Linked DNA regions of Homo sapiens: all the other regions are linked to region 2. Evidence: fine-mapped expression QTL. A gene starts in region 2. Each other region holds a variant in brackets. All regions are shown on one strand. Distances are from middle to middle.

Evidence for each region.
Region 1: its variant is fine-mapped to the expression of PROCA1 in lung (GTEx, PIP 0.91).
Region 3: its variant is fine-mapped to the expression of PROCA1 in visceral fat (GTEx, PIP 0.97). The same link has a PIP of 0.9 or more in transverse colon.

What each region holds. Positions count from the first base shown.
Region 1 is chr17:28,747,848-28,756,021 of GRCh38, reverse strand. TRAF4 (TNF receptor associated factor 4) reads right to left here. Exons shown (of 7, transcript NM_004295.4): 3 at 8,075-8,174; 4 at 7,844-8,005; 5 at 7,599-7,760; 6 at 7,356-7,511; 7 at 5,066-7,077. The coding sequence ends at 6,445. It overlaps FAM222B (family with sequence similarity 222 member B), which reads left to right. Exons shown (of 3, transcript NM_001077498.3): 3 at 1-42. Among named protein-coding and RNA genes, the nearest start is that of TRAF4, 7.9 kb to the right of the region's middle. RefSeq lists an enhancer at 7,932-8,174. The variant G/T (reference allele first, on the strand shown) is at 3,625.
Region 2 is chr17:28,707,169-28,715,345 of GRCh38, reverse strand. PROCA1 (protein interacting with cyclin A1) reads left to right here and starts at 3,458. Exons shown (of 5, transcript NM_001366301.1): 1 at 3,458-3,776. The coding sequence starts at 3,686. It overlaps RAB34 (RAB34, member RAS oncogene family), which reads left to right. Exons shown (of 10, transcript NM_031934.6): 7 at 70-151; 8 at 224-314; 9 at 446-553; 10 at 636-1,062. The coding sequence ends at 703. RefSeq lists enhancers at 2,604-2,683, 3,242-4,017, 4,018-4,793 and a silencer at 3,724-4,223.
Region 3 is chr17:28,626,739-28,634,915 of GRCh38, reverse strand. It overlaps BLTP2 (bridge-like lipid transfer protein family member 2), which reads left to right. Exons shown (of 39, transcript NM_014680.5): 16 at 1-399; 17 at 830-1,021; 18 at 1,165-1,367; 19 at 1,515-1,633; 20 at 1,754-1,974; 21 at 2,677-2,867; 22 at 2,997-3,096; 23 at 3,235-3,437; 24 at 6,357-6,651. Among named protein-coding and RNA genes, the nearest start is that of BLTP2, 14 kb to the left of the region's middle. RefSeq lists a silencer at 6,848-7,022. The variant G/A (reference allele first, on the strand shown) is at 4,941.

The sequences.
Region 1 (8,174 bases), 41 kb before region 2:
GTTTTTAAGATTATTATAAACCAGTAAAAATAAGAAAACCTCGCTTTCTGACCTTGTTCTATTCGTTTAGTGCTGTGAATGTTTGAGGTAACTTTTTCTTAACAGTTTCTAACATACCTCACTTCATAGGAGTAATTCCTAATTTTTAAAAGGGGTACCCCTGTAATATGCATCCCACCCAGAAGCCGTCTCCAAATCCATTATTTAAGGCCAGGTGCTATGGTGATTGTAGACAGTTCTTCAATGAAACCCTGGACACAGGGTACCCGGCTGACAGGCCCTCTCCCTGGGCAGGGCTGCTGTGGGCTTACTGTGAAGTTTGAGGATAAGTGTGGTTTGCTGTCCCTCACTGGAGGCCCAAAAGGTCCTGCCACTTGCATTCCAAGGGCCATAAGTCATTGAGAAATGGCGATCTGGTTGTTTTGTTTTGTTTGAGGCGAAGTCTTGCTCTGTCGCCCAGGCTGGAGTCCAGTGGCACGATCTCGGCTCACTGCAACCTCCACTTCCCAGGTTCAAAGGATTCTCCTGTCTCAGCCTCCTGAGTAGCTGGGATTACAGGTGCCTGCCACCACGCTCAGCTAATTTTTTGTATTATTAGTAGAGATGGGGTTTCACCATGTTGGCCAGGCTGGTCTCGAACTCCCGACCTCAAGTGATACACCTGCCTCGGCCTCCCAAAGTGCTGAGATTACAGGCGTGAACCACCATGCCCAGCCAAGAAATGGGGATCTGGTTTGCTAATAACCCAACCTAAAACTTCAAACCTGCCTTCTTCCACTTCCAACACTTTGGAAATTCTGAGGGCCTCTGACAGAGGTGAAGGTGATAGGCACTGTTATCTGCAATGTAACTGGCTCCTCTTGGTGATTACAGTTTTCTTATGTTGAATTTTGGATAACTTTATTTTTTTGTCTGCAGAGGAAAAAAAAAAAACACTAAGTGATTGCAGCCAGGCACAGTGGCTCATGCCTGTAATCCCAGCACTTTGGGAGGCCAAAGCAGGTGGATCATCTGAGGTCAGGAGTTCAAGACCAACCTGACAAACACGGGGAAACCCAGTCTCTACTAACAATACAAAAATTAGCTGGGCGTGGTACCACGCGCCTGTAATTCCAGCTACTCAGGAGGGTGAGACAGGAGAATCGCTTGAACCTGGGAGGCGGAGGTTGCAGTGAGCCGAGATTATGCCACTGCACTCCAGCCTGGGCGACAGTGAGACTCCCGTCTCAGGAAAAAAAAAAAAAAAATGAATTAAGTTACCCTCCTCTTCTGTTGAGCTTGGGTTTGAGCTAAGATGTAATGGAAGGAAAAGTTGATTCTGGCTGGGTGCGGTGGCTCATGCCTGTAATCCTAGCTCTGGGTGGCTGAAGTGGATTGCTTGTGCCCAGGGGTGAGACCCTGTGTCTTCAAAAATTGTAAAAAGTTGGGTGTGTAGTCCGGGTACAGTGGCTCACGCCTGTAATCCCAGCACTTTGGGAGGCCGAGGCAGGCGGATCACCTGAGGTCGGGAGTTCAAGACCGGCCTGACCAACATGGAGAAACCTTGTCTCTATTAAAAATACAAAATTAGCTGGGCATGGTGGCGCATGCCTGTAATCCCAGCTACTCGGGAGGCTGAGGCAGGAGAGTTGCTTGAACCTCGGAGGCGGAGGTTGTGGTGAGCCGAGATCGCGCCATTGCACTCCAGCCTGGGCAACGAGTGAAACTCAGTCTCAAAAAAAAAAAAAAAAAAAAACAAAAGTTGGGTGTGATGGCACATACCTGTAGTCCCAGCTGCTTGGGAGGCTGAAGTGGTAGGATTCCTCAAGCCCGAGAGTTTACGGCTGCAGTGCCAGTATCTGGGTGACAGGAGTGAGACCCCCATCTCTAAATGAAAAAACTATTTTTTTAAAAAAAGAAAACTGAGGCCGGGTGTGGTGGCTCACACCTGTAATCCCAGCACTTTGGGAGGCTGAGGCCAGCTGGATCACCTAAGGTCAGGAGTTCGAGACCAGCCTGGCCAACATGGTGAAAACCCGTCTCTACTAAAAATACAAAAATTAGCCAGGCATGGCAGCGGGCGCCTGTAGTCCCAGCTACTCAGGAGGCTGAGGCACGAGAATCACTTGAACCTGGGAGGCAGAGGTTGCAGTGAGCCAAGATCGCGCCACTGCACTCCAGCCTGGATGACGAGAAAAAACTCCGTAAAAAAAAAAAAGAGAAAAGAAAATTGAGGCTTGGCACAGTGGCTCACCTCTGTAATCCCAGCACTTTGGGAAGTGAAGGCCAGCCAGATCACCTAAGGTCAGGAGTTTGAGACCAGCCTGGCCAACATGGTGAAATCCCGTCTCTACTAAAGATACAAAAATTAGCCAGGCATGGTGGCAGGGGCCTGTAATCCCAGCTACTCGGGAGGCTGAGGCAGGAGAATCGCTTGTGAACCCGGGAGGCAGAGGTTGCGGTGAGCTGAAATCGTGCCACTGCACTCCAGCCTGGGCAAAAAGAGTGAGACTCTGTCTCAAAAAAAAGATTATATATATATGTGTGTATATATATATATAATTATAATATCTATATGTATACATATAATATCTATATATATAATTATATAATATATATATAGATTATATATATACACATATAGATTCCACAAGATGGGGGATTCAGGGAGGGTAGAATCAGACCCTTGGCGGCAAGAGTCCGCAGGTGGCTTCCTGAATGCTGACGGAGCTAAAGCACCAGCCTTCTTTCTTGAGCACACCCTTTTCTGTAGGGTGCTTTTGTTTTTTTATTTTTTTTCAGACGGAGTCTCACTCTGTCGCCCAGGCTGGAGTGCAGTGGCGCAATCTAGGCTCACTGCAGGCTCCACCTCCTGGGTTCACACCATTCTCCTGCCTCAGCCTCCTGAGTAGCTGGGACTACAGGCGCCCGCCGCCATGCCTGGCTAATTTTTGTATTTTTAGTAGAGATGGGGTTTCACCATGTTAGCCAGGATGGGGGTGCTTTTTTTTCCTTGAGATAGTCTCTTGCTCTGTCGTTCAGGCGGGCAGTGGCACGATCTTAGCTCACTGCAACCTCCACCTCCCGGGTTCAAGTGATTCTCCTGCCTCAGCCCCATGAGAAGCTGGGACTACAGGTGTGCGCCACCATGCCCAGGTAATTTTTGTATTTTTAGTAGAGACGGGGTTTCGCCATGTTGGTCAGGCTGGTCTTGAACTCCTGATCTTGTGATCCGCTCGCCTCAACCTCCCAAAGTGCTGGGATTACAGGCGTGAGCCACTGTGCCTGGCCGAGGGTGTTCTTTTGTGAAAGTGTTTTGACTCCTTTATGCCTCATGCCACCCCTGTGAAAGGAAGCTGTCTTCTGCCTGTGTCAGATAAGATCTGCAGTCGGCCCAAAAGCGGAGCTAGACATTAGTAAAGTACAGCGCTTCCTCCAGAGTGAATGATTCCTGGGCTGAGGTAGATCCTTGGGGAGTGCAGCTCACACTTTTATTGCAGAACATGGCCTGAATTCTGCAAGTTATGACTAGCACTGAATAAGGTCCAGGTGTGCAAGGCTTGCAGAGTATGGGGTTAACAGCCCCATTGTTTGCATGCAACTCTAGGAGGCACCATCTAGACTATGTGAATGTGACCCCCGGAA[G/T]CATGCAGTGACAGTGTATTTATTTATTTAGAGACGGAGTCTCACTATGTTTCCCAGGCTGGAGTTCAGCTCACTGCAACCTCCACCTCCCAGGTTCAAGTGATTCTTCTGCCTGGGCCTCCCAAGTAGCTGGGACTACAGGTGTGCACCACCATGCCCAACTAATTTTTTTTTTTTTTTTTTGAGATGGAGTTTTGCTCATTGTTGCCCAGGCTGGAGTGCAGTGGTGCGATCTCAGCTCACTGCAGACTCTACCTCCCAGGTTCAAGCAATACTCCTGTCTCAGCCTCCCAAGTAGGTGTGATTATAGGCACCTGCCACCACGCCCAGCTAATTTTTGTATTTTTAGTAGAGACTTTTGTTTCACCATGTTGGCCAGGCTGGTGTTGAACTCCTGACCTCAGGTAATCCGCCCTCCTTAGCCTCCCAAAGTGTTGCGATTACAGGTGTGAGCCACTGTGCCCGGCTCCTTATATTTTTTTGTAGATACGGGGTGGCTCCCTTTGTTGCCCAGGGTCATCTCCAACTCAGGCTCCCAAAGTGCTGGGATTATAGGCATCAGCCACTGTGCTCGGTCAGGTGTGTAGCTGGGATTCTGGAAAGGTGTTTCAGCCTGTTGCCTGAAAGCATTTATGCTGCTGGAGCCCATGGTTGCCTCTACCAGTCTCCAGGCATCACCGTACCAAGACGGTTTATCTGGTGAAGAAGCCCAGCTCTAGTTTCTCACCTAGGCAGGAGGGCCCCATTTCTCCCTAGATAAGTAAGTCAATTTGACCTTTTTGAAAAGAAAGATTGGGCCGATGATGACCTCCCCAGCCTGGCTCACTGAGGCTTAGTCCTGTCCTGTCACCCCATAAAGGGTTTTTTTTTTTTTTATTCTCCCTGTCGCCAGGCCGGAGTGCAATGACGCGATCTTGGCTCACTGCAACCTCCGCCTCCCGGGTTCAAGTGATTCTCCTGCCTCAGCCTTCTGAGTAGTTGGGACTACAGGTGCGTGTCACCACACCAGCTAATTTTTTTTTGTATTTTTAGTAGAGACGGGGTTTCACCATGTTAGCCAGGATGGTCTTGATCTCCTGACCTCGTGATCCGTCCACCTCAACCTCCCAAAATGCTGGGATTACAGGTGTGAGTGAGCCACTTCGCCCAGCCCAAGGCCTTTTTTTTTGAGACAGGGTCTGGCTCTGCCACACAGGCTGGAGTGCAGTAGCGCAATCTCTGCTCACTTTAACCTCTGCCTCCTGGGCTCAAGCCATCCTCCCACCTCAGCCTCCTGAGTAGCTAGTCGTGTGCAGCAGAGGCTGAGTTTTTTTTTTTTTTGTTTAAACCCTCAGCCTCTGCATGGGAAAAGAAAGAACTACAGTCCTTGAACCTTCCCTTACTAATGATTCTCGTACATACAGCCTCTTCTCAGGGCTAGGCAAGACAGTAAGGCACTGTGTGCTGACCAGTTCATTTAATCTTTACAACAAATCTGGGAGGTGAGCCGCATTTCACCAGTGACGGTAATGGAGGCCCTGTGTAGCTCAGAAACTTGCCAAAAGCAAGCACAAGGACCCACACCTATTGCCACAACTAGAGGGAGCTACAATTTCTAGGGACTACTGGAGTTTAAAACAGAATCGAGGCCCTGTCCGAACCCGCGGAAGAATCACTGATAAGTCAGTCTCCTCTGTTCATGTTTCATAGGTGAAACGTGGATAATCACATGCACCCACTGAGGCCCGTTAAGAAAAGCCGATGAGAGACAGGAGAAAATCCAAGTGCCTTGAACATCTTGAAGGCCCCTTTTGCTCAACACCCAGTCCCTGGATGTGGCTGGGGTTCGGAGTTAGAAAGCATTCACTAAGCACTTACTCTGGGCCAAGAACATGCACTGCCTCATTAACTCTTCTCTAGAGCCCACAAAGCCAGTTACTGTGCTAAAAAGTATTTCACTTGACAGTTCTTTTCAATGAAATAATAATGCACGTAAAGTGCTTAGCAGTGTCGGTGCTTATTACCATTAGACCAAGAAAGCCCTGCCTAGGGTAGAAGCACTAATCTGGTGGGGCTGACCAGGGACTCCAGCCTTATGAAACATCTAGGCCATACACTTCCCGCATTTCATCGGCAGAGGGCAGTGGCAGGGACCGTCTTCCACACAAAGCCCGATGCAGTTTTCCCGGCGTCCATCAGAGGGCGAGCCAGCAGGTAAGCTGGATCCTGGGGCCAGACCCAGGCAGCGGCCCTTCTCTGACTGGTCCTTTCTTTGCCTTCAGTTTGGTTGAGCCTCCCAGGGACCTAACCAACCCAGGTAAGTCAGGCTGGAAGCAAATTAATAAATACAATTCCGGATTTATTAAAAATCAGGGCTCCCCTGCTGTGCCCTCCTGGCACTAAGGAAATAAATAACCAGAGGGGGCACAGCTAGGTAAAGGGGGAAAAAATCAGATCTCAAGACAGACTCTTTGAACTACCCTTTCTCCCTCCCCAATTCCCACCCCCTTATGGCTCTTGGGACATAGCACCTGAGCAGGCACCTCAGTCCGTGTAGAGTGTGACCGGCACCAAGGCATGTCTGCCCTACCCAAGAAGGGAGACAGGCCCTGGGGTCACTTGTTTCCAGCCCTTCATGACCCCAAGACCTGTTCCCCACAGGGGCCAGGGCTGAAGCACCAATTGGAGGCACCTGAGGGTGGTGGCTGGGGGAGGGAGGATGGGGTAACAGAACCTAGGCAGCAGAAGCAGCTGACGGGGGTCCGGCCCCCTCTCCAAGTTCAGCCAGTGCCTGACTGAGGTCATGCCCCATCGTCCTTTCCCCTCGAACCCCACCTGCACTCAGCTGAGGATCTTCCGGGGCAGTTCAACAGCAGCACGGATGAAGACTGCATCATCCCGCACATAGTTTCGCTTTCGAATGTCCTGGTGGGAGATGAACTTGGGATAACCAAAGCCCAGAGAACTCTCATCCAGGGAGCCCCGCCACGTGCCTGGCTTCTGGAAATTCTTCCAGTTTGGGTCGGGGTGGAAGGTCTCAGTGACGTGCTGTGGTTTAGCCAGCCCAGGGTCGCTCTGATCCAGCAGGGAGAAGGTGACACGGCGGGCAAAGGGCCACTCAAGGAGATTGTCAAAGGCACCAGGCAGCACACGAATGTACAGTGAGAGGTGTGTGCCCTCACCACTGCCATTGCCATTGAGGAATGCAGACACCTGCAGCTTGTAACCATACTTATGTGTGTAGAAGGCTGGGCTGAAGCACTCAAGGTTGGGCTTGGCCTTGGCCTCCTGTAGCCGCCGTCCATAGCTGCCAATCTTCCAGATGAGCACGCCATCACTGCCCACTGATAGCTCCTCCAGCTCTCGCCGAAGCTCCTGCAGCTCCTGCCGTTGCCGGCTCACCAGGGCACACATCATGGCCAGATGTGGCTTCACACTCTCCTCCACATGCCGTGCCATTGCCAGCTTAGGGCACTGTTGGCAAAGCCCCAGGCCATGGGGGAAGGGAGGAGAGTTATCAGTAGGGGGAGGTCCAGGGAGAGGAGAGGAGTGGGTACAGGGTAGCAGGCACCCAGCTCTACGTGAGGAAGACAGAGGGTGTTAGGAAGAGGCTGGAGCTGGCAGCAGAGGGAAGGACTGAGGGTTTCAGAGCAGCACAGCAGGGACCACCAAGGCCTAAGTACATCAGAAGCTGAGCCTCTGTCTAGGGCTTCAAGGGCAAAAGGGGGCTGACAGGAAAAGGGGCATCTCACCCTGTGCTTGCAGCCGGAGTCTTTGAATGGGCAGAGCACCAGGGCGGTGTTACAGCTGTCCTTCAGATGGCCTGGCAGGTCCTCCCGAGCCACAGTGCCCACACCACATTGGTTGGGGCAGGCAACAGGCAGCCTTGGGCACTGGTACTGGTGGCTCTGGGGCCACAGAAGTAGAGAGGCAGGAGTCAATATCCTGACTACCTGTCACCTACCCTGCAACCCACAGTTCAGGGAAGGCCTCACCTGGATGGTGTCAAAGACGAACTCCTTAGTGCAGTAGGTGCAGGGCTGAGTGCGCTTGGGGCACTCAGAGGTGGCATGCTGGGCCAGCAGCCGCCGCATCATGCGGGCACCACACTTATTCTCACAGTAGACACTCTCCTGGGGGCACATACCCTCATGGCTCTGGAAATGTCAGAGGTGCTGAGTTAAGAGATGCCTAGGCCATCAGGTACCCCCTCCTCCACATTCAGCCAGACCCCACCCACCTCATAGGCCTCCCCACTGAAGTCACAGCCACAAAACTCGCACTTGAGGCGCCGCTTGGGGCAGTCATGCTGCAAGTGTGCAGGTAGATCACGGCGGCTCAGCTTCATGGGGCAGCGATTAGGGCAGGGAATGACATTGAAGCTGCAGGTATTCAGGTGGCCCTGGTGGGAAGGCTGCAATTAGTGCCTGCCAAGGGAGAGGTGGTGCCAGCCCTCACATCAGAGCCTCACCTGTAGATGACGTAGTGGCCCACTCCAGCGGCAGCCCTCCTCACTGTGGATGCAGCGGATAGGCAGGCCCAATACTTGTACTTCCAGCTCCGGGTCTGGG
Region 2 (8,177 bases):
GGCCTATGAATGTCAGTGGGAGGGGCCCTGCAGACTCACTCATCCCTTACTTTCCACCTCCCATGGCAGGCAGTGGCTGGCCGATGCCCTGAAGGAGAATGACCCTTCCAGTGTGCTTCTCTTCCTTGTAGGTTCCAAGAAGGATCTGAGTGTGAGTGTGCCAGTGGGGGGACTTCCCAGCTTGGTGAGGGAATGCCCCCCTCTGACTCTGGCCTTCCCTCAGACCCCTGCTCAGTATGCGCTGATGGAGAAAGACGCCCTCCAGGTGGCCCAGGAGATGAAGGCTGAGTACTGGGCAGTCTCATCTCTCACTGGTGAGTTGGAGGCTTTAGGGCTCTGCTGTGACACTCTTGCCTGGCTCTCCTCTCACTGCTACACCTCCAGCTGTGCCCTGTGTCCCCAGACCCAGCACTGCCCCTGAGCACCTATCTGCTCTCTGTGTCAGGTGAGAATGTCCGAGAATTCTTCTTCCGTGTGGCAGCACTGACCTTTGAGGCCAATGTGCTGGCTGAGCTGGAGAAATCGGGGGCTCGACGCATTGGGGATGTTGTCCGTGAGTGCTTGCCTGGTTGAGGGTGGCAGAGGGCACAGTGAGCCTCCAATCCCTGCTTCACATATTTTCCACCCTTCTTTAGGCATCAACAGTGATGACAGCAACCTCTACCTAACTGCCAGCAAGAAGAAGCCCACATGTTGCCCATGAGGGCTGAGGAGACTGTTCAGAGACTGCCCAGCCCTAGGGCACTGTGCCACCCTCATTCCTCCAGAGCTTGACCCCTGGACATTTGCACTGACTTTATCCAGACCAAAGAGCTGCCTCTTGGTGGCAGTATTCCCACAGAGGGGTAGCTGGGATCATGCTAGTCACTTCCTGCCCCCAGGCACCGTGCCAAAGACTGGATGCCCCCTACTCCTCAGGGGACTGTCCAGGGCGCCCAGTGGTAGTGAGGGAGAGTGTCTCTGTTCTTTTGCTCAGCCTGCTGGGCCCTTTGTGTTTGAGGATGCTTAATGATTCCAGCCTCTCACTGTGCCTTATGCATTAAAATTTCTTTGTTACGAGCACTTTGGGGCTGGAGTTCTTTGTTGGGGATGATGGATGTGGAATGGGCATGACTGTGTGGCCATTTTGGCACTAGAGTCCCCTGGGGATGCTGTGCTGGCCATCCCTGGCCCCTGGGCAGGTTCAGGTAGGCTGGGAGCTGAAACATCAGTTTGGGGGCTGCACTGGGCCCTCACTGGGTGAAGTCTGAATGGCTGGCTTTGAGAGCCCTTTCCCCTGATCCTTTCCCCACACGTGTCCTCCTACTTGGTGCTTATACCCAAATTTTCACCACTGGAGAATCTTTTTCTTTTTTTCACCCTTTTCTTGCCTTCCCTTTAAGAAGTACTTTTCCAGGCAGGGTGCGGTGGCTCGTGCCTGTAATCTCAGCACTTTGGGAGGCCAAGGCAGGCAGATCACTTGGATTCAGGAGTTCGAGACCAGCCTGGCCAACATGGTGAAACCCGCGTCACCATTAAAATCCAAAAATTAGGCCGGGCGCGGTGGCTCATGCCTGTAATCCCAGCACTTTGGGAGGCTGAGGCGGGCGGATCACGAGGTCAGGAGATAGAGACCATCCTGGCTAACATGGTGAAACTAAAAATGCAAAAAATTAGCCAGGCGTGGTGGCTGGTGCCTGTAGTCCCAGCTACTTGGGAGGCTGAGGCAGGAGAATGGCCTGAACCTGGCAGGCGGAGCTTGCAGTGAGCCGAGATGGCACCACTGCACTCCAGCCTGGGTGACAGAGCGAGACTCTGTCTCATAAAAAAAAATAAATAAAATAAAATACAAAAATTAGCCGGGCGTGGTGGTGCATGCCTGTAACTCCAGCTACTTGGGAGGATGAGGCAGGAGAATTGCTTGAACTCAGGAGTTATAACCATTAACTTTTCTTTCTTTTTTTTTTTTGTTTGTTTTTTTGGTTGTTTATGCCATTAACTTTTATAAGAAAGAAAGGTGACCAAGACCCTGGCTCCCTGTTGACATCTAACCCAGAGTTCCAGAGTAGCTGGAAGCACCTCAGACATCTGGGTCAACAAAGGAGGACTTATGGCCTCGTGTCATCCTGGGAGGCTAAGGGGGTGTCCAAGTTAGAAGGCAGATTCTGGCTCCCAGTTGCCAAGTGCTCTGTCTGTTCCATTCCTGGTTCCATTCTCACCAGGATGGTTGGTTTTTCTGCACACTTCCCTTCTCCTGGCTTCCCCTCCCTCGCAGTTCCTAGACTCTCTAGAGCTACCACGGGAAGGAGGGTCTGGGCAGCAGCCCTACCCACTCCGGACTTGGGTCTGGAGGAAAGTGAAGGTGGGGATCAGGCAGAGCAATAGTAGCAGCAGCAGAGCCCCTGGATGATGGTGGAGAAAACAAGGTGTGGACCCCATCCTTTCTCCTCCTCTTCATCCTGGCTTTGGAAGCTGGTGCCAAGAGAAATGGAGGGGTGTGGTGCATGGAATGTCGTCGATATGGCCATAACTTCTTTTCACACTCTCCTGTGATTGTTTTTTCCATTTCTGTTCCCTCGCAGCACTGGGCTCCTCACCCTTGCCTTGCCTGTTAACAGATGTGTGTGAAGCCAGCACCACAGTCCAGGTGTGGTGTTTGTGCTGCACCGGGTGTGGGAGTTCTGTGTTCCGTGTGCATGTTGTATTAGTCTGTGTGTGGTGAGTATATTCTGTGTGTGTGTGATATATGCATGCGCAGAGTGTGTATGTTGTACCTGAGGGCGTGAGGGGTGTCACTGGGATGAGGTTCCTATGAATGCAGCCTGCCCTGTTCTCCAGATTGTCTATCAGGATAAGCTTACGACTCTCTATTGGGCAGTATTGTCTCTAGAATAGGGTGTCCCCTGGGGGCCAGGGGCGGGAACGCTGCGGGGTGGCGCAGGGGCTGGGAGCCGACATCAGGTCCTCAGCCCGGAGTTAGGTCTTCGGAGAGGCCTGTGGGCGGAGAAAGGGGAAGCCCGGGCTCCACCAGAGGCGGAGGGACCTCGAAGCCCGGAAGGTGGAGGGGAAATGGCGACGCCAGGACCTCCCTGGGCTCAGGGGATCCTCCCATCTCAGCCTCCCGAGTAGCTGGGACTACAAGTGCGCACCACTAAACTAGCTAATTTTTGTATTTTTTGTAGAGATGGGGTTCGCTCTCTCGCCAGCGGGCAGAGGCGGGGCTGCGGCTGGGTTCCCAAGGGTCGGTGGGGCGGGGAGCGGGACGGGAGTGTGCGGTTTAGAGAATGGCCGGGGCGGGGCTAAGAATGGGGCTGGGGGCAAGGCTCGTTGTAACACTAAGAATTGGGGCTACGATCTGGAGGCAGGGTGAAAATCTGGGGTTTGGACTGCAAGCTGGAACCAGAGATGGGTGGTGAGAGCTGGGCCTGTAAGGTTAAGGTCTGAGATAAAGAGGGGCCTGGGAGGCGCCGGAGGCCCCGGATGAAGAACGCGGCTGACGCTGAGACCCAGCTGGGAAGACTACGCAGCCTGGAGCCGGGCTGGGGAGGCCGGCGGGGGCTGCGCCAGCATGAGGCGGGGTTAGGGGCTAGGCGGGGGCGAAGCCGAGACTGGAGTTCACGGCTGGGCCGAGGGCTCGGCCGGGCTGAGGCTCAGGGTTGGACTTCACGCAAGAGTCCTGTAGAGACGAAGACCTGGGCGGAGAGCGATGTGGGTCAGGACGACGCTCACAATTGAAAGATGGACTAAGGAAAAGACCGAGCCCAAGGCCCGCTCGTGGGATGAGAGCAGATGCCGCGGTAAGAGGGGCGGGGCAGGGGCTGGGCAGAGGGCGCGGCCCGGCTCGCAGACCCCGAGCGGCGCACGCGGGAAGCCGGCAAACCGACGAGGGAGACGGGCAAACCAACGAGAGAGGCGGGGCCCAGTGCTGGGCCGGGGCGGAGCTAGGGCCGGGGCGGAGCTAGGGCCGGGGGCGGGCTCGCGTCGAGCCGCGGGCCAATGATTGAGGACTGGGGTCCTGAGGCCCTGCTGGGTCGCCCGCGGGATGGGCGGGAAGTCTGGTTCCAGCCAGAGCTGGAACGCTCGGCTATCGGACTGGGTGGCACCGGGCGCAGGCCGCTGCCCTTGAAGCGCCGGCCTTGGCTGGAGCCCGTGGACCAGCGCCCACCCGGACGCCGGGGCGGGAGCGGGCGGTTCCATCGACCCTGAGGGTGGACCAAGGAGACTGAGGGTTCCACCCGTGGCATCACAATTACCTCCGCGGCGGCGAGGCCAGAGAGGCATTTCCAAGGAGACGCGGGCGCACTGCCCCTCCCTTGCTTCCTCCTCTTCCCTCCTTCCTCTCCTAGTTTCTTCCCTCCCTTCCCGCCCTACTCCTTCCCTCCCTTCCCACCCTACTCCTTTCGGCTGCTCTGGTGCCCACCCCCAGTGCCTCGAGGTCGAGGAGAGCTCCTCGGCCCCGCAGGACGGGGAGGATTCTGTACAGATGAGCATAACTTGTGAGTTTTGAGTTAGGCCTTTGTGCGCCGATTAACGCCTCACGGGGAAAGACGCCATAAGCCTCCCACTTTCTTTCACCCTATCACCCTCCTCATTCATTGTGTGTGTTGTCAGTCACTCCTGCTGCAGGAACTCTGGACTGCTGCTGGTCAGAGGTCTCCTCCTGTCCTCTGGAACTAAAGAGCAGATTGCTTTTCTCAGCTCTGAAGAGAGTTACTAAATTCGTCTCCCCCTTTGTCCTTCCTCCCCTCGTCTCCTTCACAAACAGAGCTGATGGGTGTCCGAGCTCTGGGGGAGCTAGTGAGTGGAGAGTAAACAGGCTCTGACCCTGCATGTGTGCTTTTTTTTTTTTTTTTTTTTTTTGAGATGGAATCTCGCTCTGTCGCCCAGGCTGGAGTGCAGTGGCGCAATATCGGCTCACTGCAAACTCCACCTCCCGGGTTCAAACAATTCTCCTGCCTCAGCCTCCTGAGTAGCTGGGATTACAGGCGCGCGCCACCACGCCCAGCTATTTTTTTTATTTTTTTTTATTTTTAGTAGAGACGGGGTTTCACCATGTTGGTCAGGCTGGTCTTGAACTCCTGACCTCGTGATCCGCCCACCTCGGCCTCCCAAAGTACTGGGATTACAGGCATGAGCCACCGCGCCTGGCCATGTGTGTCTCTTTCATGGTGGCTCCTGAAACAGCAAGGCAGAGGAGTTTTGGTTCCTCACCCTGGCTGAGGTCCCAGCGGCATGACTTTAGGGTCCAGGGTGGATAAGGGAGGCTGTGGAGTCCAGATTGAGTAAAACCAGAGGGTGAGGAATTGGTAGTGTTGGAGCTGAAAAGCAGGTGCAGTAGGAAGTGACTGTGCCTCAAAAAAACACCTGTCCTTCCCGCCGTCTCACTCTGCTGCCCACACTGGAGTGCAGTAGCACGATATCGGCTCACTGCAACCTACACTTCTGGGGTTCAAGCGATTCTCATGCCTTGGCCTCCAGAGCAGCTGGGACTACAGGTATGTGCCACCATGCCTGGCCGATTTTTGGATTTTTATTAGAGAAGGGATTTCACCATGTTGACCATGCTGGTCTCAAACTCCGGACCTCAAGTGATCCGCCCACCTCGGCCTCTCAAAATTCTGAGATTACAGGCATGAGCCACTGCACCCGGCCTGGTAGGACAGGTTTTGCATATGGAGCTGAACGTGATTTATTTTATAAGACAGAATCTCACTCTGTCGCCCAGGCTGGAGTGCTGTGGCTCTCTCAGCTCACTGCAACCTCTGCCTCGCCGGCTCACTCAAGCAGAATGTGGTTTTAAGGCTTGGCTATGGGCCGGGTGCGGTGGCTCACGCCTGTAATCCCAGCACTTTGGGAGGCTGAGGCGGGCGGATCACGAGGTCAGGAGATCAAGACCATCCTGGCTAACACGGTGAAACCCCGTCTCTACTAAAAATACATAAAATTAGCCGGGCATGGTGGTGGGCGTCTGTAGTCCCAGCTCCTCGGGAGGCTGAGGCAGGAGAATGGCGTGAACCCGGGAGGCGGAGCTTGCAGTGAGCCAAGATCCCGCCACTGCACTCCAGCCTGGGCGACACAGCCAGACTCTCTCAAAAGAAAAACAAAACAAAACAAAAAAAAAGGCTTGGCTGTGGAGCTTCACATACAGAATGACCTTTGTTTACAGGGGTGTGTCCCCAGCCAACAGTAAGTAGACAGGGCTGAAAGAGCATAGGCTATGGAACCAGGAAGACCTGGGTTTGAATCCTACTTCTACAGTCTATTAACAATGTATGTTTGGACAAATTACTTATCCTCTCTGAGTTTCTGTGTTCTCATCCATAGAATGGGGCTGTGGTGGGGATTTAGAATCAAAGGCATATATTTTAGTTGAGACAGGGTCTCACTCTGTTGCCCAGGCTGGAATGCAGTGGCGTGATCACGGCTCACTGCGGCCTCGATCTCCCTGGGCTCAGGTAATCCTCCCACCTCAGCCTCCTGAGTAGCTGGGACTACAGGTGTGCACCACTAAGCCAGCTAATTTTTGTATTTTTTGTAGAGATGGGGTTTTGCCATGTTGCCCAGGCTGGTCTCGAACTCCTGGACTTGTGATCTTCCCGCCTCAGACTCCCAAAATGTCGTTTTTTTTTTTTTTTCCTTTTTCTGGAGAACGGGGTCTCGCTATATTGCCCAGGCAGGTCTCGAACTCCTGGGCTCAAGCTATCCTCCCGCCTCTTGCCTCTCTGAGAGCTGGGATTACAGGCGTGAGCCACCGTGCCCGGCCCAGACTCCCAAAATGATGGGATTACAGATTTATGTCATTTCATTGGTGGATGTTGAAAACATGGAAGTTGATGAAGTTATCCAGGACATGCTTTTGTAGAGCCTTCTGAGGAGGTGACCAAGTCAGAACTCTTGTAATCACCAATTTAAGGCATACAACAAAACAAGAGGAGACAGCAAAGGAGACAGGGAAGAACTAAAGAGCTGGTTAGAGAAGGAAGAGAAAGATGAGGTCTGCCATGGAAGCCCAAGGAACAGTTTGCAGAAGAAGGAGATTCATTGGTCAATAGGGTCAAGTGAGGCCGGGCGCAGTGGCTCACGCCTGTAATCCCAACACTTTGGGAGGCCGAGGGCGGATCACAAGGTCAGGAGTTCGAGACCAGCCTGTCCAACATGGTGAAACCCCGTCTCTACTAAAAATACAAAAATTAGCCAGGTGTGGTGGCGTGCACCTGTAATCCCAGCTACTCAGGAGGCTGAGGCAGGAGAATTGCTTGAACCCGGGAGGCGGAGGGTGCAGTAAGCCGAGATCCCACCACTGCACTCCAGCCTGGGCGACAGAGCGAGACTCAATCTCAAAACAAAACAAACAAAAAACAAAACAAAACAAAAAACAGGGTCAAATGAGATAAGAAGCCCACTGGATTTGGCTACTGGGAAACTGCTGGTGGCCTTTGCCAAAGCTATTCAGATTGGGGGGTGGATGGCTGCCATGTTGCAGGTGGCTGGAAGAGAAGAAAGAAGTGAAGACACTGAGCTCACTGAAGGTAGGGACTGGGCCTCTTTTCTAGTGCCGAGGGAAGCCACCCAACATATGTCCTCTGAATGAGTTAATCAATTTGGATTGAAAGGGGGATATGCAGTGGTAGGAGAAACAGGATTGACAGAGTGTTTTGTTTTATGATGTCTATAGCCTGTAAGGGGGGAAAAAAGAAGCCAGTAAAGAAGGAGAAGGTGTCACTTCTGGCTGGGACCTAAAATATAGATGCTTTGGGCATGAGAAAGGAGGGACACCCTTTTCCCAGGCAAGCAAAGTTGATGAGGGTTGGAGTGTCCACAGATAATGGCGGTGAAATTATCTGCTGAGAGAAACAGTGGTTGCAGGAGTTTCCAGGAAGTGCTTAAAGTCATTCATTCATTCTTTTGTTCATTTAACAAATTTTGAGTACTTGCCGTGCTGTGGAAAACAGGAGGAGGAGCTGACCAGAGACTTATAGGAGGATGACCAAGTGCCACTGAAGGCTTGCTGAAGACCCCAAGCAATCAGTTTCCCTTCCTTAAGCAGACCTCAAGTCCAGTGCCTCAAGGGATAAAGCTAGTTGTGGGAAGGAAAGGCAAAGGGGCAGACTGTCTTGTGGCTGCTAATGGCTGAGGGAGCTGCCACCCCAGTTGGAGGTCTGCTTAGGGTCATCCTCTGTCCAGGCTCCACACACCCT
Region 3 (8,177 bases), 80 kb after region 2:
ATGATAACTACGAGCTGATGAAGGATGAAAGTAAGGAGAGTGCCAAAAGACTACAGCTACTGGATGCTAAAGTGGCCGCCCTTCGGAAGCAGCATGGGGAGTTGTTGCCTGCCCGCAAAATTGAGGAGCTCTATGCCTCTTTGGAACGCAAAAACATTGAAATCTACATCCAGCGTTCCCGTCGTCTCTATGGCAACACACCCATGCGCCGGGCACTGCTTACTTGGAGCTTAGCAGGGCTAGAACTGGTAGCTCTGGCAGATGCCTCCTTCCATGGTCCTGAGCATGTGGTAGAACAGGTTCAAGAGCTTGATCCAGGCAGCCCTTTTCCCCCTGAGGGATTAGATCTTGTCATTCAGTGGTGTCGAATGCTCAAGTGCAATGTCAAGAGCTTTCTGGGTAAGTAGTGTTTCCTTTATTTGCAGACCCCGTGTTTGCCCGCTGAGCTCTGGGGAGCTCTCAGTGATTTCAGAGGAACTAGGTTATATTGGGAACTGTGCCGTTTTGGGTGGGTGGAGTGGGATGGGTGGGCTTCCCTTCCCTTTCTTTGTTCCTGAATTTCACCGTGAAATTGCTTGGCTAACATAAAGGGAAAGCTAACACAGTCATCTTTAAGGTTATTGTGTCTCTTGGATCTCAGTGCTATGCCCTTAACCACCTGCTCCAGGGTCACTGTCATTTTTCAGCTTGCTGTGTCAACTGCCTGCCCTTGTTCTCTCAATTGACTTTGTAAATATAGATGGGTAAAATAGTGGTGAGGAAAAAGATAGGCCCGAGAGTGCTCAGACTGCCCCTGAGTAGCCAGTGTGTACCCTTCCTCTGGTAACAGTTCGGATCAGGGACTATCCACGGTACCTGTTTGAGATCCGTGACTGGCGGCTAATGGGTCGACTTGTGGGCACCGAGCAGAGTGGTCAGCCTTGCTCCCGTCGGCGTCAGATCTTGCACTTGGGGCTTCCGTGGGGTAACGTGGCAGTGGAGAGGAACATGCCCCCACTCAAATTCTACCATGACTTTCACTGTGAGTAGAGATGAGGCAGTTGGTTTGGCTGAGGGACGTTTGTGATGGGTGAAATGGGAGGTGAGCTGAGACCCTTCTGGAGTGAAGGAGGAAGAGAGGGGTAATGTTGTGAACAAGTTATAGCCTTTGTTCCTCTACCCCAGCGGAAATATTCCAGTACACAGTGGTGTGGGGCCCATGCTGGGATCCAGCCTGGACACTAATTGGCCAGTGTGTGGACCTCTTGACCAAGCCCTCAGCTGACCCCAGCCCACCTTTGCCCTGGTGGGACAAGAGCCGTCTTCTGTTCCATGGAGACTGGCACATGGACATTGAACAGGCGAACCTGCACCAGCTGGCCACTGAGGTGAGGGGTGTCATGATACTTTTATCCTATCAGGATGGTATGGTTGAGGTCTGTATAGCACATGTGGGAAGAGAGACAGGTGCTGATTTGGGAGATGAGGATGGTTTTCTTACCTATATCTCACCAAATTCTCGGGGGTGGTCATAGGATCCATACAACACAACTGAAAATATGCACTGGGAGTGGAGCCACCTGTCTTTTCATTGGAAACCTGGTCAGTTTGTGTTCAAGGGTGACTTGGATATCAACGTGAGAACAGCCTCTAAGTGAGTGGAGTGAAGGGAGGGTCCTCCATGGGATGAGGGGCTCAGGTTGGAGGGAGGGGGAAGAGCCAAGGGGAAGTGAGTGACCAGGGCACTGAGGGCTGGGGTTCCATTGTGAGGCAGGTATGACGACTGCTGCTTCCTTCACCTGCCTGACCTCTGCATGACACTGGACCTGCAGTGGCTGTGCCATGGGAACCCCCATGATCACCATAGTGTCACTCTGCGGGCCCCAGAGTTCCTGCCTGAGGTGCCCTTGGGCCAGCTTCATGACTCCTACCGGGCCTTTCGCTCGGAGAACCTCAATCTCTCCATCAAGATGGATCTGACTCGGCACAGTGGAAGTGAGGCTTGGGCCTGGGGCAGTGGGGAGGAAGGGCTTGGGAGGACGGGCATGGATGCTGGGGACTTTAGCTTGACCCTCTGGGGAGGGGAGGGGAGGGGAGAAGGGCAAGGGAGAATCTAGGTTAGGACCTTTTTTTTTGTTTTTTGGCAGGGGAAAGGGTTGGTGTCTTAGTCCTTTTTGGCTGCTATAACAGTAATACCACAAGTTTGGTAGCTTATAAACAACAAGCGTTTATCTCTCACAGTTCTGGAGGCTTGAAAGTCGAAGATCAAAAAGAGCTGATAGATTCAGTGTCAGTGAGGGCCCATTCCTCATAGATGGTGCCTTTTTGCTGTGTCCTAATATGGTGGAAGGAGTCAGTGAGCTCCCTTGGACCACTTTTAAAAGGGCACTAATCCTATTCATGAAGGCTCCACCGTCATGATCTAGTGACCTCCCAGAGGCCCACCTCTTAACATCATTACCTTAGGGGTATTTCAGCATGAATTTTGGGGAGATGCAAACATTTAGACCATAGCAGTAGGGGAAAGCAGAGAGCTTAGATCCTTGAAAGAAGAGGGAGTTGGGGATGCTGAATGTGAGGCTAGGTGCTGTTTGGATTTTGGATTTTTAAACCTCTACAACCTGCAGCAAGGGAAGGATTTAGCTTTACCTCTGTGTTTCATCCATAACTAGGAAATGTCTGTCTTTCTCTTTGCAGCAATATCCCAGCCCCGAATTCTGCTATATAGTAGTACCCTGCGCTGGATGCAAAACTTCTGGGCAACTTGGACAAGTGTCACAAGGCCTATCTGCAGGGGAAAGCTCTTCAATAACCTGAAACCCAGCAAGAAGAAACTTGGTCAGCACTACAAGCAACTTTCCTATACAGCCCTCTTTCCCCAGCTGCAGGTAAGGCACTGATGTCCCTGCTGACATCTTCACTTTATTCTGCTTCTAGTTTTCTTGTTTCTCATATTGAGTCCCTTAATCATCCCTCTCATGCCATCCTTTGTTAATGTTATGCTCTCTTGTTGCCAGGTACATTATTGGGCCTCATTTGCCCAGCAACGGGGCATCCAGATTGAGTGCAGTCAGGGCCATGTCTTCACTCGGGGGACTCAGCGGCTTATACCTCAAGGTAAAATGAAAGACTCCTTTCATTTCTCCTATCCTGTTCCTTGTTTTTCCCTTCTCAGTTCCATTCCCCTCCTCCATCTCTGTCTTACACTATCCTCTGAACTGGTCAGCATGGTCTCTGTGTGCCTCTTTTTCTCAGCAGGCACAGTGATGCGGCGCCTTATCTCTGATTGGAGTGTTACCCAGATGGTGAGTGACCTAAGTCAGGTGACCGTTCACCTGATGGCCTCACCCACTGAAGAGAATGCTGATCACTGTCTTGATCCCTTGGTAACAAAGACCCACCTGCTGAGCTTGTCCTCCCTCACCTACCAACGGCATAGCAATCGCACAGCTGAGGAGGTACTCCCTGACACACTTTCTTTATTACCTTATTTATATTAGTAGGTATCTCAGCCTACTTGGGCTGCCATAACAAAATACCAGAGACTGGGAGGTTTATACAACAAAAATTTATTTATGAGTTTTGGCTACTGGGAAGTCCAAGATCACGGTGCCCGCATGGTTGGGTTCTGGTGAGGGCTGTCTTCCTGGCTTGCAGATGGCTGCCTTGTGTCTGTCCTCACATGGCAGAGAGGGAGAGAGAGCACAAGTGTGCACGAGTGCTCTGGTTTCTCTTATTGTAAAAGCACTAATTCTGTCATGAGTGCCCCACCCTCGTGACCTTATGTCATTACCTCCCAAAGGCCCATCTCCACATACTGTTACATTGGGGGTTAGGACTTCAACATATGAATTTGGGGGGAACACAGTAAAGTCCATAGGAGTAGGTTGCAGATTAAGTCCCTGGTAAGGTTTCTCATATATTCCAAGCATGTATGTCATTACTTTATGACAAACTCATTTGGTTTAGCTGTATCAGCATCCTTCTTTTTGAAAATACTTTTTCTTTCTCTCCTAAAAATAGTATGTTACTCTTTAGGAAATAGAGTAAAATTTTTTCCTAACACTGAAAAAAAAATTGGTACTGCCTTTCCCCCAATTAGGGAAGGATTTTAAGTTGAAATTCTCAAGTCATTTAAAATACAGTGGGGGAGGGCTGGGTGCGGTGGCTCATGCCTGTAATCCCAGCACTTTGGGAGGCCAAGGCGGATGGATCATTTGAAGTCAGGAGTTCAAGACTAGCCTGACCAACATGGTGAAACCCCCATCTCTACTAAAAATACAAAAGAATTAGCTGGGAATGGTGGTACATGACCGTAGTTCCAGCTACTTGGGAGGTTGAGGCAGGAGAATCTCTTGAACCCGGGAGGTGGAGGTTGCAGAGAGCCGAGGTCACACCAGTGCGCTCCAAGCTGGGTGACAGAGCAAGATGCTGTCTCCAAAATACAAAAAAAAAAAAAAAAAAAAAAAAACAGTGGGGGCTGGGCTCAGGTGGCTCATGCCTGTAATCCCAACACTTTGGGAGGCTGAAGCAGGTGGATTGCTTGAGCTCAGGAGTTTGAGACCAGTCTGGGCAACATGAGGAAACCCTGTCTCTACCAAAAATACAAAAAATTATCTGGGTGTGGTGGCATGTGCCTGTGGTCCCAGCTACTCGGGAGGCTGAGGTGGGAAGATGGCTGGAGTCTGGGAAATCGAGGCTGCAGTGAGCCATGACCGCATCACTGCTCTCCAGCCTGGGTGACAGAGTGAGACCCCATCTCAGAAATAAATAGGCAAAGTGTGATGGCTCATGCCTGTAATCCCAGCACTCTGGGAGGCCAGGGTGGGTGGATCCCTTGAGCTCAAGAGTTCCAGACCAGCCTGGGCAACATGGTGAAACCGTGTTTCTACAAAAAATACAAAAAAATTAGCCAGGCATGGTGGCATGCACCTGTAGTCCTAGCTATTTAGGAGGCTGAG[G/A]TAGGAGGATGGCTTGAGCCCAAGAGGCAGAGGTTGTAGTGAGCCAGGATTGCACCATTAAGGCTGGGTGCAGTGGCTCACACCTGTAATCCCTACACTTTGGGAGGCTGAGGCAGATGGATCAGTCGAGGTCAGGAGTTTGAGACCAGACTGGCCAACATGGTGAAACCCTGTCTCTACTAAAAATACAAAAATTAGGCCAGGTATAGTGGCTCACGACTGTAATCCCAGCACTTTGGGATGCCAAGGTGGGCGGATCATTTGAGGTCAGGAGTTTGAGACCAGCCTGGCCAATATGGTGAAACCCCATCTTTACTAAAAAATACAAAAATTTGCTGGGCGTGGTGGCAGGTGCCTGTAATCCGAGCTACTCGGGAGGCTGAGGCAGGAGAATCGCTTGAACCCGGGAAGTGGAGGTTGCAGCCAGCTGAGATCGCACCATTGCCTTCAGCCTGGACGACAAGAGTGAGACTCTGTTTCCAAAAAATAAATAAATAAATAAATAAAAAATAAATAAATTAGCCAGGTGTGGTAGCACATACCTGTAATCCCCAGGTACTTGGAGACTGAAGCATGAGAATCGCTTGAACCTGGGAGGCAGAGGTTGCAGTTAGCCAAGATCATGCCACTGCACTCCAGCGTGGGTGATGGAGTGAGACTCTGTCTCAAAAAAAAATCACACCACTGCACTTCAGCCTGGGAGACAGAACCAGATTCTGTCTCAAATAAATAAATAAAAATAAATAAATATATTTAAAAAATAAAATGGGCCAGCACAGTGGCTTGTGCCCGTAGTCCCAGCTACTTGGGAGACTAAGGCAGGAAGATTGCTTGAAGCCAGGAGTTCAAGACCAGTCTGGACAAAATAGACTCCATTTCTTAAAAAAAAAATTTTAGAGGAACTCTGAAAACGTTTTTTGATAAAGAATAAAATACAGTAGGTATAGTTTGAATGTAATATAATATAAAAGCCAAGACCACTTAGTTTTTCTTCTCCAGGGTCTGTCTCCCCACCACGCCCAGTGAATTTTTTTTTTTTTTTGAGACTGCGTCTCTCTCTGTCGCCTGGGCTAGAGTGCAGTGGTGTGATCTCGGCTCACTGCAACCTCCACCTGCCAGGTTCAAGCGATTCTCCTGCCTCAGCTTCCTGAGTAGCTGGGATTACCAGTGCCAGCCACCATGCCCAGCTAATTTTTTGTATTTTTAGTAGAGATGGGGTTTCACCAGGTTGGCCAGGCTGGTCCCAAACTCCTGATCTCGTGATTTGCCCACTTCGGCCTCCCAAAGTGCTGGGATTACGGGCATGAGCCATGGCATCTGGCCAACAGGTTTCTTATTCAACAAACTTTTATCACTGCCTCTGTGGCACTGGGGGCAATTTCCATGCTACCCTGAAGTCCTTTTCCTGTTTCTTAGGAGCTCTCTGCTCGTGATGGGGATCCTACCTTTCATACACATCAGCTGCACTTAGTAGATTTACGGATTTCCTGGACAACTACCAATCGAGACATTGCCTTTGGGTTATATGATGGGTACAAAAAGGCAGCTGTACTCAAACGTAATCTTTCTACTGAGGCCCTGAAGGGGTTAAAGATTGATCCACAGATGCCAGCCAAAAAGCCAAAGCGGGGTGTCCCAACTAGTGCCTCAGCCCCACCTCGTGTTAACACTCCCAGCTTCAGTGGACAACCTGATAAGGGGTCATCAGGAGGTAAGCTCGGGGAGATGAGACTTTTTGGGTTTGGGTTTAGAACATGGATATGGGCTTGGACAGGAGTTTTAAAAGGACTGAGTCATGGTGCTTCTATCTAGGTAAAGAAGTGAAACTATTATTTTTCCTTCTTAGGCCACCTAAGTCTTACATATTAAGTAACAGTGATGTTGGGGCATTAAATGGTCTGGTCCTATGGCCAGAAGAGAATCAGAAGGGGAGTGTTGGAGCCAAAACAAGATGAGTAAGGGAAAGAAGCAAAGTGGTAAATGCCATAAGAGAGAAATAAAAGAAAATGGGAGTTGGATGGGCACAGTGGCTCACTCCTGTAATTCCAGCACTTTTGGAGGCCGAGGTGGGTGGGTCACTTGAAGTGAGGAGTTCAAGACCAGCCTGGCCAACATGGCAAAACCCCATCTCTACTAAAAATAATACAAAAAAAATTAACCAGGCATGGTGGCAAGTACCTGTAATCCCAGCTACTCGGGAGGCTAAGGCACGAGATTCGCTTGAACCCAGGAGGTGGAGGTGATAGAGCAGGACTCCATCTCAAAAAAAGAATATGGGGCCGGGCGCAGTGGCTCACGCCTGTAATCCCAGTACTTTGGGAGGCTGAGGTGGGTGGGTCAGGAGATCGAGACTATCCTGGCTAACACGGTGAAACCCCATCTCTACTAAAAATACAAAAAAATTAGCCGTGCATGGTGGCGGGTGCTTGTAGTCCCAGCTACTTGGGAGGCTGAGGCAGGAGAATGGCATGAACCTGGGAGGCAGAGCTTGCAGTGAGCCTAGATCGCACCACTGCACTCCAGCCTGGGCCACAGAGCAAGTCTCTGTCTCAAAAAAAAAAAAAATGGAGGTATTGCTGACAGGAGTGAAGGGGGGAATACCATCAGGGGAGGGTTTATTGAGGAAGTAGCATTTGAGCCAGGCCTTGAAAGCCTAGTATGGTTTGAACATGTAGAAATGGGGTAGAAGGGCAATCAATGCAGAGGGAATAATCTGAGTAGGAGTGGAGTTTGAAAGCCTAGTGCGTTCAAAGCAGAGTCTTGAGTGGAAAAACCCAAACTCAAAAGTGTTTTTTCTATTCCCTCACTCGAAAACAATTGACACAGAAGACTTCTGTGACCAAATGTGTGGGAATTTTTCCCAACCAATAAGCAAGCAATTAATTCTGCAGTGGACACCAGTTGGGTGTCCTCTAATTCAGTTCAATTCTGACACTATCTACCCAGGGACAGCATCAGATTCCAAAGGTTGACGACTCAGTCTCTAAGCCCGCCCTTCTCCTTCATATGCCAGTCACAGGCTCCAGGTTGCTTTATCTGTGCTTCTCACCAACTGGCTATAAACGGGTTCCCACAACCCCCTCCTTGGGTTCAATTAATTTGCTAGAGCAGCTCACAGGACTGAAGGAAACATGTTTACTGGATTACTGTAAAGGGTATTACAAAGGATATGGATGAAGAGATGCATAGTGCGAGGTATGGGAAGTGGCGGGAAGCTTCTGTGCCCTCCCCAGGCAG